2 linked regions of the Homo sapiens genome follow. The protein of the gene in region 1 interacts with the protein of each later gene in a pairwise test. Each region holds a gene or a part of one and is shown in the gene's direction. Other genes may lie near its edges.

What was found.
Region 2: the proteins of SDC4 (region 1) and PLAAT4 interact in a two-hybrid assay, tested with the Homo sapiens proteins (one study listed by BioGRID).

Annotation. Positions count from the first base shown.
Region 1 is NC_000020.11:45,324,595-45,331,564, reverse strand, and holds the end of SDC4 (syndecan-4 precursor), read left to right. Parts: intron 1-1,000; coding exon 1,001-1,199; intron 1,200-4,149; coding exon 4,150-4,301; 3' UTR 4,302-6,277; downstream 6,278-6,970. UniProt on the Homo sapiens protein: Cell surface proteoglycan which regulates exosome biogenesis in concert with SDCBP and PDCD6IP.
Region 2 is NC_000011.10:63,531,925-63,540,001, forward strand, and holds the start of PLAAT4 (phospholipase A and acyltransferase 4), read left to right. Parts: upstream 1-4,883; 5' UTR 4,884-4,944; coding exon 4,945-4,953; intron 4,954-7,591; coding exon 7,592-7,700; intron 7,701-8,077. UniProt on the Homo sapiens protein: Exhibits both phospholipase A1/2 and acyltransferase activities. Shows phospholipase A1 (PLA1) and A2 (PLA2), catalyzing the calcium-independent release of fatty acids from the sn-1 or sn-2 position of glycerophospholipids.

The DNA of each region.
Region 1 (6,970 bases):
CCTGTATCTTGTGCAGACCTCCTATCTCATTCTGTTACGTAGGATGCTTAACTTACTGGGAATGCGGCCCAGCAGGTCTCAGCCTTATTTTACCCAGCCCCTATTCAAGATGTAGGCACTCTGGTTCAAACACCTGACATTTTCCCCCTCCCTTTTGTAAGAAAACCCTTAATCCTAAGGGTTGCAGAGGGACAAAGATCCATCTTCTATAACTTCTTCATGCTGAATAGGGTGATGATATTCCTGCTTAACTATTAGGGCCTCTTGTATCCATGGTAGAGAGGGGTTCAGTCAGAAAGGGCCAGTATGGTGAGGGCCATTCATAACTCTTAGTTCTGACAAAAGGTGATATCCAAAGTCCTCCAATCAGTGCTGCAGTCCATTTCCTTTGATTCGGGAGTCTCCTCCGTCTCATCCCTTCTGTGGTTCTCCAGAAAGATGTTACCAGAAAGGGGTCCCGATCCAGACCCCAAGGGAGAGGGTTCTTGGATCTTGCACAAGGTAGAATTCAGGGTGAGTCCATAGAGTAAAGTGAAAGCAAGTTTATTAAGACAGTAAAGGAATAAAAGAATGGCTACTTCATAGGCAGAGGAGCTGCAGCAAGCATCTTTTACACGTAGTCTCTGAAGAGCTCCTTACAATAGAGTTTCCAGGGCAAAACTGCCACCTTAAAGGGCAAGCGATGTCTAAGGTTTTGCCAAATTGCTTCCAGAGTGGTTGCTCTAGAATAACCAGTGGCCAGCAGTGCAGGAGAGCACCTGCTTCCCTGTTCCCTTGGGTGCATTCATTTTTCATTTGGGACAGATATACTAAAAAAGTTGGGGATAAGGATTTTGGCAGCATAATTGTGGAGACAGTGTTGCCAATTCCTGCTCCAGGACCATATGGTTCAGCTGAATATGGCAGAACCAGATTCTCTGCCTGGCTGAATGTCCCTGTCCCCTGCCCTGAGTCTCTTCCAAAATACGCTGAGTGTCTCTTCTCCTTTCCGCCCATCCAGGTGCCTCTAGATAACCATATCCCTGAGAGGGCAGGGTCTGGGAGCCAAGTCCCCACCGAACCCAAGAAACTAGAGGAGAATGAGGTTATCCCCAAGAGAATCTCACCCGTTGAAGAGAGTGAGGATGTGTCCAACAAGGTGTCAATGTCCAGCACTGTGCAGGGCAGCAACATCTTTGAGAGAACGGAGGTCCTGGCAGGTAAGTCCCCATGCTGCTTATAAGATGCCTTGAAGGTGGAATGGGGCTCAGCGGGGGAGAGCACCTGCAGGCAGGGATGCCTCCAGCCATGAGGCTCCTTGGTGCCCCTTCCTTTTGCCTATTCAGGTTGCCCTAGAACATTGAAAGACTACACCTTCCTTATGGGGTGGCTCTGACTGTGCAGCCTGGTGGAGGGAGAGGAAAAAGCACCTATCAAAGTCTTCTGGAAAATAGGCATTGAGTCATTCTTCTGCCTTAAGTCTTTCTCATTTATTTTGCAAAGGACTTTCACTGTATAAGTTTGGCATCTGGGAGTTAATCATTAAAAGTTAATTTCCCTTGTAAGTCTGGAGGCTCCTTCGAATTGGGTTAGCTTCCCCTCCCCCTACTCTATCACTTGGCAGCCTTGTGACCTTGGCTGAGAAGCTTTCGAACTTGATGAGCCTCAGTTTCCTTATCTGTAAAATGGGTACAGTGATACCTTCTGGGGTTGATATAATGAGTCCATGAAAAATAAAATATGAAATAACTTTGCACACTATAAAGGGCTATTCCGATTTGGCCTCAGTTGAGAGTTCTTTACTGGAATGTGCGGTGAGGAATGCTTTGTCCCAGGTGTTGACAAAAGGGATGGAGGGAACTCCCCAAGGTCATGGCCGAGGGCCAGCCTGGATGAACCGGCCTGGCAAGTGGGCACCCTGGGCCCATGCTGGGTAACTCCTGTCTCCTGGGAATCAACAGAGCCAGCAGCTCCAAGGAGGCTTGAGCTATAGGGACAGAGCCTGGCTTCATCCAGGACAGATGGAAGGTCTCACCTGCCTCTTGTAAAGAGGGTTCCTGGGAGCACAGCCCCTGATGACTGGGCCCACCTCAGCCCTGACCCTGGCTTCCTGGTATCTGAGCCAAAGTTCTTTTTACTTTTCTTTCAGAAGTAAAAAGATTTGCATAAGACTTTGGATTTGCATAAGGTTTTGCTCTAATTAACTAAAGGTGCTATTGCTTCTAAAGAAAAATTTGAAAACCACTGATTAATCTAAGCACCTGCTTCTTATACATGGGGAGACTGAGGCCCAGGCTTTAGGCCACATAGTAAGAAAAGAACTGAAGCCAGGTTATCTCTTTAATCTTCCATTTGAGAATTATACAAGCCTAAGAGCCTCATGTGAAAAGTTATATTGTTAGCTGGTGTGGTGGAATCCCCCATTCCAGAAGCTTTAATCAGCACCCAGGAGCCTTATTAAATGCTTGCTGTATGCTGTATGATTCCTGTGCCCCTGATTGAGTCCGTACAACACAAAACTCAGTCTAAAGAACTTATCCGAAGTCACAAAGCTGGAAGTGGCAGACCTGGCATTTGGACTGAGGACCACAGTCAGCTTCTGAGCCTGTGCTTGAAACTTGACCCTGTGGGGCATCCCAGCGCAGACCCAGGGCCTCGTGGAGGAACTGGGGTCATCAGAGGGAAAGGTGATAGAGACAAGAATGGGGTTGATGCCTGATATTCCATGTGCTTGCTCTGGCACCTCCTGGGGGTACTTTTTTGTTGCTTTTTCATAGGATTTTACCCAAGAAAGAACCTTGCTTGACTCCTCTGTGCCACTCTGTCCCCATTGTGTACATAGATTTGTAGTGTGTGCAGGGATGGAAAATTAATCTTCTTAGCCCGAGTAAGACCGAATTAGGGAACTCAATCTGCCACAGAAGGGATTCTATGAAGCATCCCTGCCCCTAGCAAACAGGAATGAGTCATTCAGGCCACCTGGCAGAGTGGACAGGCCAGACCCACTCACTGTTAGAAGCCCATCTCTGCCCAACACTAGGCAGGTTCTCCTCTCGGAGCCTGAAAGTATCATTTATTAAGCACCTCCTGTTGTGCACACCTGATTCAGGGGGTTCGGGACACAGATATAAACCTTAAACCCTTACAGTTAATGAATCTTGAGAATATGCTATGCACTAGGCATTGTTCTAAGCACTTTGAGTGGATTAATTTATTTAATCCTTAGGACAAATGTATGAGAAAGGTATGGCTCTTCCCATTTTGCGGTAGGGAGATGAAGGAAACTTGCCCCAAATCACACAGCCAGGAAGTAGGAGAGGTAGGAGTGGAAACCAGGCCTTAGCTACTGAGTTCTGTATGTAATTGTAACATAAGAGTTTGGAATTAGTATGTTCTGCATGTGTGCACTTTGAATGTACATACCTGTCTATGAAGTGTAGGCTATATAGGTAAATATGCACACAGGGAGAGCTAGAGAGTGCCCTGTGCTAAGGACTGCAGGATAAATATGTCTACAGGGATTTCCATAGCCTACGGTTTTCTCCTGTTCCTGGTTCAGTTAGTGCTAGACTGTTGCAGGGGAGTCCGCGTGGTGTTTGGAAAGAGCCTAGGCTTTAGATTCAGGCAGATGTGGGTTAAAATAGTGGCCTTGGCCGAGTGCGGTGGCTCACGCCTGTAATCCCAGCACTTTGGGAGGCCGAGATGGGCAAGGTCAGGAGTTCAAGACCAGCCTGGCCAACATAGTGAAACCCTATCTCTACTAAAAATACAAAAATTAGCCGGGCATGGTGGCACGTGCCTATAATCCCAGCTACTCAGGAGGCTGAGGCAGGAGAATTGCTTGAACCTGGGAGGTGGAGGTTGCAGTAAGCCGAGATCACGCCACTGCACTCAGCTCGGGCAACAGAGTGAGACTTCGTCTCAAAAAGAAAAAGGAGTGGCCTTACCACTAGCCCTGTGGTCTTCAGTGACTTAAAATGCCAACGACCCACTTCTTATAACTGGGGTCATGAGGTCAACTTAAATAAGGCATCAGCTTGCCTGGCACAGGCAGTGGTGATGGTGAGGATGTCTGGTTGTAAGAGAACTGACAGTGGGGGAAAGAGGGGTTCATCCTTAGGTCCTGATGAGGAGCTCTCACCCCCGCCTCTTCTCTCTCCTCCTCTCCAGCTCTGATTGTGGGTGGCATCGTGGGCATCCTCTTTGCCGTCTTCCTGATCCTACTGCTCATGTACCGTATGAAGAAGAAGGATGAAGGCAGCTATGACCTGGGCAAGAAACCCATCTACAAGAAAGCCCCCACCAATGAGTTCTACGCGTGAAGCTTGCTTGTGGGCACTGGCTTGGACTTTAGCGGGGAGGGAAGCCAGGGGATTTTGAAGGGTGGACATTAGGGTAGGGTGAGGTCAACCTAATACTGACTTGTCAGTATCTCCAGCTCTGATTACCTTTGAAGTGTTCAGAAGAGACATTGTCTTCTACTGTTCTGCCAGGTTCTTCTTGAGCTTTGGGCCTCAGTTGCCCTGGCAGAAAAATGGATTCAACTTGGCCTTTCTGAAGGCAAGACTGGGATTGGATCACTTCTTAAACTTCCAGTTAAGAATCTAGGTCCGCCCTCAAGCCCATACTGACCATGCCTCATCCAGAGCTCCTCTGAAGCCAGGGGGCTAACGGATGTTGTGTGGAGTCCTGGCTGGAGGTCCTCCCCCAGTGGCCTTCCTCCCTTCCTTTCACAGCCGGTCTCTCTGCCAGGAAATGGGGGAAGGAACTAGAACCACCTGCACCTTGAGATGTTTCTGTAAATGGGTACTTGTGATCACACTACGGGAATCTCTGTGGTATATACCTGGGGCCATTCTAGGCTCTTTCAAGTGACTTTTGGAAATCAACCTTTTTTATTTGGGGGGGAGGATGGGGAAAAGAGCTGAGAGTTTATGCTGAAATGGATTTATAGAATATTTGTAAATCTATTTTTAGTGTTTGTTCGTTTTTTTAACTGTTCATTCCTTTGTGCAGAGTGTATATCTCTGCCTGGGCAAGAGTGTGGAGGTGCCGAGGTGTCTTCATTCTCTCGCACATTTCCACAGCACCTGCTAAGTTTGTATTTAATGGTTTTTGTTTTTGTTTTTGTTTGTTTCTTGAAAATGAGAGAAGAGCCGGAGAGATGATTTTTATTAATTTTTTTTTTTTTTTTTTTTTTTTACTATTTATAGCTTTAGATAGGGCCTCCCTTCCCCTCTTCTTTCTTTGTTCTCTTTCATTAAACCCCTTCCCCAGTTTTTTTTTTATACTTTAAACCCCGCTCCTCATGGCCTTGGCCCTTTCTGAAGCTGCTTCCTCTTATAAAATAGCTTTTGCCGAAACATAGTTTTTTTTTAGCAGATCCCAAAATATAATGAAGGGGATGGTGGGATATTTGTGTCTGTGTTCTTATAATATATTATTATTCTTCCTTGGTTCTAGAAAAATAGATAAATATATTTTTTTCAGGAAATAGTGTGGTGTTTCCAGTTTGATGTTGCTGGGTGGTTGAGTGAGTGAATTTTCATGTGGCTGGGTGGGTTTTTGCCTTTTTCTCTTGCCCTGTTCCTGGTGCCTTCTGATGGGGCTGGAATAGTTGAGGTGGATGGTTCTACCCTTTCTGCCTTCTGTTTGGGACCCAGCTGGTGTTCTTTGGTTTGCTTTCTTCAGGCTCTAGGGCTGTGCTATCCAATACAGTAACCACATGCGGCTGTTTAAAGTTAAGCCAATTAAAATCACATAAGATTAAAAATTCCTTCCTCAGTTGCACTAACCACGTTTCTAGAGGCGTCACTGTATGTAGTTCATGGCTACTGTACTGACAGCGAGAGCATGTCCATCTGTTGGACAGCACTATTCTAGAGAACTAAACTGGCTTAACGAGTCACAGCCTCAGCTGTGCTGGGACGACCCTTGTCTCCCTGGGTAGGGGGGGGGGAATGGGGGAGGGCTGATGAGGCCCCAGCTGGGGCCTGTTGTCTGGGACCCTCCCTCTCCTGAGAGGGGAGGCCTGGTGGCTTAGCCTGGGCAGGTCGTGTCTCCTCCTGACCCCAGTGGCTGCGGTGAGGGGAACCACCCTCCCTTGCTGCACCAGTGGCCATTAGCTCCCGTCACCACTGCAACCCAGGGTCCCAGCTGGCTGGGTCCTCTTCTGCCCCCAGTGCCCTTCCCCTTGGGCTGTGTTGGAGTGAGCACCTCCTCTGTAGGCACCTCTCACACTGTTGTCTGTTACTGATTTTTTTTGATAAAAAGATAATAAAACCTGGTACTTTCTAAACTGCTTGCCTCTGTCATTTTCGTTCATAACAAGTCATCCTTTTTGGGCTCTGTATCCCCTTGATCTCAGTGGAGCATGAAGAAACTCCCCGGACCAAATCCCCTACGGGGTGCCAGACATGCCGGGGGTGGGCAGAGGGTGGGGGCAGAGAGGTAAGAAGGCAGGAAGGGGCCTAGAGAAGAGGGAAGACTTCAGAACATGCACCCTGATGGCCTATGCAGCATATCACCCCTACTTCAAGGTTTTGTTTAGGTGGCACTGTGTTTAAATAGCAAACACAAAAATCTTTGCGTCAGTTGCCATCCATAGAAATCAGGAGGTTTCTCATAAAAATCCAGATTTCTCACTTTTCTTGGGAAAAAGAAATAAAAAAAATTGGCAACTGTCAGCCTGCATGGCAACAAGAGAGCTGCTGAGCGGCAGGCACCCATCTAGATGTGGGCTCTCCGCACCACTGTCTCCGCCTGCTTCACTCAGGCCACTGCTGCAGCCAGGCTGGCTGGCAGTCTCCGGAAATAGCATGGGCCATCTTTCTTGACCACTATAACAACCCTGTGAGGTGGGTAAGATCCTTGTTACCAAGAGGGCAACCTGCCCCTAGTGTGTCTGGAGAGTCGAACCTTAATTTCAGGTCCTTGGACATTGGTGATCTTCCTTTGGCACCATGTTGCCCAGTACTTTGCTGGGGTTGGG
Region 2 (8,077 bases), on another chromosome or scaffold:
TCGGGACCCAAACTCACTAAGCCAAAGGGAAAATTCAAGCTAGGAATTGGGTCACCCAAACCTGCCTCCCATTTTGTTCCTAAATAGATAGCTACAAAAATAAAAAGCTATATAACTCCCTAACAATTTGCTCACAAGGGAATTCTTTGTGAGCCCCAAGATCTTCACCCTAAAACAGTTCTGCTGAATGACACCCTGATGATGTAAATTGACAGCTTATCATCACAGGTATGGGAGAAAGGACAGAACTATAAGTCATCCCTCCATTCACCTGAGACAAATGCATATTTGACTGCTTATATAAAAATCCAGATTCACTAAGCATGAAATGAATGCATAATTAACTATTCCTCTACCCCCTCCTTTCACATGTAAAATGCAGATTCAGTGAATGCTGATCAAAGACTCAAAGGAATGCAACCACTTGCCTCTTTTATCTACCCTCCCTTTTTTTCCCTTTTCTCTTTCCCCTAATGCCCACACTTTTCCCTTTAAATAATGATGTCCCCAGACGCACTTTGGAAAAAGCACGAATCACAGATGTTTCCTATGGTTTTCTGTTCCTTTTTTCCTGGATGTGTCCTAAACCTTAGCTAAATAAATCTCTAAATTTTTGACTGAAAGCTGTCTCAAATATTTTTTGGGTTACAGCAGCTATTGCATCTAGATATACAATATAAATTAATGTAAAATATCATATGCTTGTAATTTCATACATGCTAGAGATATCATCCCAATCAGGGAAAGCTGCAAGAAGAAAGTGTTGGTGGTAAAGCACAACTTCCTAGATTTTTGCTGTCAGTGGGCTGGTTGGAATTTAAACTCTTTGAGTATTAAAAACAAATCAGTCTTCATAACTGATTATTTCTGCTATTATTGTTACCTATTGGAGCCTCTAGGAAAAAAAGAGGCAATAGAGAAAGAGAGGCAGTCTCCGTTGCTAATGTGCTCTTGTGGGATTAGATGTCTGATCCTTTGGAGCAGACCATCCATCCTGATGTGGGTCAGTTTGGACTCCAAGTCTGACAAAGCAGAACAGGCTTCAGAAAGCCTTGTTTGTCACTTGGAATACAGCCGTCACTCCTGCAGCATCTAAGCTTTGGTGCTGCTGAAGAAAGGCCACTGGCTGTTTTGGAGTCCTGCATTCACAGACCCCAGCTGCCTGGAACTGACTCTAAGCTAAAACCTGACACTATCTACCACAAGCTGTTTCAACCTCAGCACAAGCTGCAATGAACTGGAAGTGTAAGCAGACAGCAAGGGTTTCCAGGGATTATAGGAATTTAATCAACTCAGCAATCAGCCTTTTACAGCCTACCATCCTGTAGCCTGTTTCTTCCTAAACCTTGCATAGAATGCAGTCATGTGGTTGGTTAAAACCAGCTCCTAACAGATCCCAGCAACCTACAGATGAATCTGAGTGAACTTTCCTCATTACCATGCTAAAGTCTCCACCCCGGAGGAGCTACAGCTTCATTACCATAGCATGCAACCTATGTGTTGGCACGATGACTCACTGCATCTGTGCAACTGGGACCCCTCCTCTGCATGTGCCGATGCACCCTCTCCCCTCTCCATCACCCATAAAACCCTCCTGTCACTTTTCGTAGGGAAGACTGCTTTGGAGAATCCTCACAGTGTCCTCCTTACTTGTGCCAAGTAATAAAACTGCTATTGATCCACACCTGTGTTCTCATGAAAAGTTGTTTGTTACTAAACGAATGATCCCCGTTTTTTTTCGAGTAACAGAAGTGGGCATGTATGGTTTCTTCTGATAGCAACCAAATACATGTCATTTGTCCACATCAATCAGTCCTGCAATTCTCCAACACTGACCGCATGTTCAACAATCCGACTCAATTCCGACGCTAACTATCCAGAGTTAGGCTCAGCCTCCACAGGTAAAGTCTCCAGGCTCAGCAACAAATGGAGTTCCCTGGCTACTCACATTTCTACCTGGCTGACTACAAATGGTGGAGACCCCCTAAATCCCCTTTAAATTTGATAATTCCCTAGAACAACTTCCAAAATTTAGAAAACTGCTTTACTTATGATTGTCAGTTTATTATAAAGGATACAACTCAGCAACAGCTACATGGAAGAAACTAAGAAGAAACTAATATGGGGGGCAGTGATTGTGCACAGCTTCCATTGTTAAAGAAAAAATTATCTAATGATACAAGCTTGATATCCACTGCACTGGGATTTTGCAGCAAGAGAGAGAGATGGGGCTCAAACTTGAACACAGCACGGGCAAGTGGGAATTCATAGGCAAGGAGAAGCATACAGGTCAGTGGATGCAAAATTACAAAGAGGAAACCTCAGGGGCAAGAGAGATTCTGGTTAAACCACACTAACAGGATTCTTGCTGAAGACAGGCCGGGGTGATCAGACATCACCTGGAGGACAGTGAGAAGGATGAACCCGGTCAGATATTGAGGGTGGGAAGTTCCTGCTAAACTGACTTGGCAGGGTCCTTTGCTAAAATTAGATTTTACAAGGAAGTACAGATGTGCCTAGGAAGAGGTTTGGGAACCTGACTAAAATGTGGTCACACAGAGAATCTTTGCCACCATGCCCTCTCCAGCCAGGCCAGTCTCCCACCACATCTGTGTTCACCTGCCCCAAAGCTCTCCCAACCCCGTCATGTAGGGGTTTCTACGGAGGCTGCATAATGTAGACATTACTGATTAAATAATGGTGATCAGTCCCCAACCTGAAGTTATCCAGCTCTCCCTCCTCAACCAAGAGCCACCTCATTAGCATAAACTCAGATTTGTTTGACAGAGACTCCTTCTGAATAACATGACATCCTATCACTCAGGAAATTCCAAGGGTCTTAGGACCTCTGTGTCTGGAACTGGGGTCAAAGACCAAAAATATATTTTTTTATCATGCCACATAAGGCATAAATAAACTTTTATTATGCTACAAGGCATAAATTTATTTAAAAATAAAAATTTTTATTATGCCACAAGGCAAAAACCCAGACTCTGGGATTGTTGAATGCAGACTCTTGTGGGGGCCCCCTTAAAGAGTTTTGTGATCCTAAATATTTCAAAATGGAGTCACTTACGACAAGTGACTCAGCCCACAGTGAAACTGCTGAACCCTCAAAATGATAAACATAGGTATAAAGGACTGAGGTAATAAGATAACATCTGCTGTGGCCAGACACCCCCAAGACCTGATGAGAAACTGAAACCAAAAGGTGGCTGAGATAATGACCATGGACACTCCTGCAGAGGGCCATAAAAACAGCAAAGAAACTGACCACGGCAAGACACCTGTAGAAGCTCTGCCCGAGAAAGCTCTGAGGCTTCCTCATGATATCCACAGCGGTCCCTGGAAGCTCTGCCCAAACACAGCAACATCGTTCAACAGTGTTTTGAGTGAAACCCAGAGGCATGCTAACCTAAACAACAGAAATGGGGGTTTTTTGTTTTGTTTTGCTTTGAGACATGGTTTCACTCCAGTTGCCCAGGCTAGACTGCAGTGGAGCAATCTCAGCTGACTGCAGCCTGACTTCTGGGTTCAGGCGATCCTCCCATCTCCGCCTCCCAAGTAGCTGAGAGTACAGGCACATGCCACCATGCCCGGCTAATTTTTTTTTCTGTATTTTTAGCAGAGACGGGGTCTCGCCATGTTGGCCAGGCTGGTCTTGAACTCGTGGGCTCAAGTGATCCACCTGTCTAGGCCTCTGGTTGGGTGTGAAAATATGGCCCAGTTCTGGCCAATGGAGAAGGGAACAGGTCATCTGGGGAACTGTGGGAAAGACTTAACTCCCTGAAAAAAAGACAAATGAGAATTATCTTTCCCTCCATCTTTTGGGCATAGCCAGGTAAAAATGGGCCACTCAAGGCTGCTACAGCCATGGGAGTCCCTGCAGGGCAACAGTGCAGACCCAGGACCAGTGCAATGGAGACAGCCTGCTGAGTCCTTGGTGACCTTGGTGAGCCACTAAACCCAACCTGAGTCACCCTCTTCCTGCCTTTCTGTTACCGAGACAATGGGTGTCCAGGCTGTTGAAGCCCTTTTGAGTTTAGTTCTGCTTCTTGCACCCAAATGCATTTTAATGGGGCCATGAGCTCCCAGGCTCCACATGGTCTAAGGTACCCCTCACCTCCAGGGCATCCCCATGGAATGAAACACCCCCTCTGGCCTTCTCCCAAGACTTCTGGCCCAATATTTTCTGGGTGTCTTTACAAGACAATGTCCTATGGGGTGCACTGGGGATTGACATCTCCCTGCCTCCGAATGCCTCCCCTTCCTGGAGTAGGAAGAGCTGCCCAGGGTTCTTTTTAGAAGAGACCTTTATTTTGGCCAGGTGCGGTGGCTCACACCTGTAATCCCAGCATTTTGGGAGACCGACGGGGAGGCAGATCACAAGGTCAAGAGATCGAGACCATCCTGGCCAACATGGTGAAACCCCGTCTCTACTAAATATGGAAAAATGAGCCAGGCATGGCAGCAGGTGCCTGTAATCCCAGCTACCTGGGAGGCTGAGGCAGGAGAATCACTTGAACCCGGGAGGCAGAGGTTGCAATGAGCCGAGATCGCACCATTGCACTCCAGTCTGGGTGACAAGAGCGAAACTCTGTCTCAAAAAAACAAACAAACAAACAAACAAACAAACAAAAAAGAAAAAAAAAGAAAAGACCTTTATTTCTCAAGCAAGGGCAGAAATTCAGGGCTCCCCTTCGACTCTGGCTGCTCCCAAGGTGGCTTTAAAGCACCAATGAGTCCATGGCTTGTGTAAGAAATGATTAGTCCTTCCATCTAGAGAAATAGCTCCTTTTTAAACAGTTGTCTCTTTTAAACAGTGTTTAGTATTTAAGTGAGGTTGAAACAGTGTCAAAAGGAAAGTGAAAGTGAAATTCTCTCCTTCAGCATAAAAGCTGATCCACAAACAAGAGGAGCACCAGACCTCCTCTTGGCTTCGAGATGGCTTCGGTAAGTTTCCCAGGGCTTTGCATTACTGACTCTACAGCAGTTGGGCAGCTCCCCCTAGGAAAGGCCTCAGTCCAGGCTCCTGGCCTTGGGCACACAGCTCCAGAGCTCGTCTTTAGAAGGCTGTCATGGAAAACTGTATTTGTCTTTTAAAAGTGCATCTGCCCAGCTGGACAGGGAGTCCTCTGGGCAGAGTCCACCTCCTCTGCGTAACTGGCACAGTGCGGGGAGCCCGGGACTCCCATGTAGTAGAGAGCTGTGGGGTGCCGGGTGTCAAATCTACCTCAGCCTGAGGAGAAGCCAGAGTGTGGGCAGGTGGGGGACTCTGGGTTGTGGGAAGCAAGCAAATCCCAACATCGTCTGCTTCTGCTGTGACTGGGGCTCAGTCCCTTCTCGGCCCCAAACGATGCTTTCTCTCTCCTCGTTCCTCTGTGGCATCATCCAGCCTTCTAAGGTGCATTCTAATCTCAGCAGCTTTCTGAAAACTGAAATTTCTCCTCCTATCAGCCCAGATGTACCGATTGGCAGAAGCTCTAGGGAGAGCAGGCTGAGCTCGGTGGTGTGTGACTAAAAAGGAACAGCGGGGCTCAGGCTATTACTAGAAACAAAACCATTCCGGGAAGGAGTCCTGCAAATTCTGGAGGGCAGCCCACTCCAACAGCACCACCTGATCCTGGGGAAGGGCTTTACTGCTGCCAAAACAAATCAGGGCTTTTAACAGGGAGCCCAGGCCAAAGCTCATATCTCACTGGCCACCAGCTGAGGTTGCCAGTACCTTGACTGTGGTTTTAGACATTCAGCATTGCAGTTAAAAGCCCCTCTCTCTCCCCACATGGAAACCATCTCCTGTGGTGCCCTGACATACAGAGGAGGAGCTGGGAGGGAGTCCTGGCCCTGCTCCTTTCTCCTCCCTCTTCCTTGTCTATTTCCTTGCCCCATTCTACGCCAGGCCCTTCACTGGGTCCTGGAGGTGCAGGGAGGGAGGAGCACACAGGATCCTGCCTGCCTGGAGCTCACAGCCCAGAGGGGCACAGGGAGGCACAGGGAATTGCAGCTCAACTTGACCCCTGCAGAGAGCAGCAGAGGCCCCCGGGGACCCAGGTCCTAGGAGTGGGGTGGCGGGTCAGCTGAGCCAGGCTGGGGCCATCAGGGCAGCTTCTCAGGTGAGGGGGTTTGAGGGAGGGGAAGAGGAAGAGTGGCTGCAGGGAAGTGATGGAGGCAGGGAGAACCAGATGTGCAGAGCAGCAGAGACCAGAGCCAGGGCAGTAGTGAGGGGCTGGGATGTCACTCAGTGGGCCTGTGGGTGCAGAGCCCAGGGAGGGAGAGGAGGGTGAGGAAGGGCCAGTCAGGAAGGGCCTGGGAGCTGCCCACAGGGTGTGTCCTGGGCCCTGAGGTCAGAGGACGGTCATGGCCAGATGTGCCCTTGGGAAGGCCACCATGGGTTCTGAGGAGTTGGATATGGAGTGGCAGGGACAGGAGGCAGGGGCTGGTCAGGGGGTTGTGGGGGTCACAGAGGCAGGCATGGGGCTGCCTGAACCAAGTCAGTGGATGGGATATTGACAAGCACACCAACAAGGAGAAGCTTCCGGAGTCCACATTGATTGGTTTTAGTGACTGGATATTGGCATGAGGAAGAGGGCAAAGGAGAGCAGACCCCAGGTCTATGATGGGACATCCTGGGATGAGGGAGGAGGAGGCTGTCACCCACTGAGGACAGGGACAGAGAGGGTGAAAATGGAAAAATCCTCCAGTCATGAGGCTGCTATGCCCTGGGGCAGGACATGGAGAAGTGGGAAGGAGGTGAGGAAGGGGAAGAAGGTGGCCAAGACAGGAACCAGGGTGAGGGGTGTGCAGGGAAGAACCAGCTCGGCCTCCTTCCAGCTGAGTGTTCTCAGGAAAGCCCTGCCACCTCTCTGATCCTCAGTTTCCCCATCTGTGCAATGGGATGATCATGCCTTCCCCTGGGGCTGTGGAGATGGTGCAGTTATTGTAGGACAAGTTCCCACAGAGGCCTGTTCTGTGAGTGCAGAGCCCCCTCAGTGCTGGGAGCTGGGGGGCCCCACAAGACCCCACTCAGGTCCCAGCAGGATGCTGTGAGCTCCTGTCTCCCAGGGTGTCATCTCCAAGAGATAGGTGTCCTGAGGCTGGATGGGGCAAGGTCTGAGGAGGAGGTGGCTCTTGGGGCCATGGAGAGGCACAGGGCAGGAGTGATGAGGAACTGAGGGTCAGTCTGCAGAGGGCGGAGAGCTCAAGACTCACCTTCCCAGCCTTGCTCCTGGCCTCAGTGAAGGTGCTGGTTCATGCAGGCTCTTGAGTCGGCCTACTGAGGAGCATGTGTACAATGCACACATGCACACACATCTGCATCCTCAGCATGCACACACACAGCACACACATGTCACACATGCGCCCAGACGGTCCTTCTGTCTCCCATCCCACAAGATCATTCTCCAGGCTTCCAGCCCCCAGTGCCCCCACTGAGAAGAGCCTCTGAAAGTGACAGCAGGGCTGAGGATCTCATGGGGCTAGCAGCTGATGAACATCAGCAAGGCGTCTCCAGGATGAGCTGCAGCTCCCCCAGCCAGGGTCTCTGCTGTTGCCTAGAAGGCCGGGTACTCCATCTCTGGCTTTTCTGTTGCAGCCACACCAAGAGCCCAAACCTGGAGACCTGATTGAGATTTTCCGCCTTGGCTATGAGCACTGGGCCCTGTATATAGGAGATGGCTACGTGATCCATCTGGCTCCTCCAAGTAAGGACTGATGAATATATAATTTTCAAAATATTTGTTAAAAGGATAATGAGAGGGCCGGGCACGGTGGCTCATGCCTGTAATCCCAGCACTTTGAGAGGCCGAGGTGGGCAGATTACCTGAGGTCAGGAGTTCAAGACCAGACTGACCAACATGGAGAAACCCCATCTCTACTAAAAATACAAAATTAGCCAGGTGTGGTGGCACACACCTGTAATCCCAGCTACTCAGGAGGCTGAGGCAGGAGAATCACTTGATCCCCGGAGGCAGAGGTTGCAGTGAGCCGAGATCGTGCCATTGCACTCTAGCCTGGGCAACAAGAGCAAAACTTGATCTCAAAAAATAAAAAAATAAGTCAATGAGAGCCACTGAAAGAC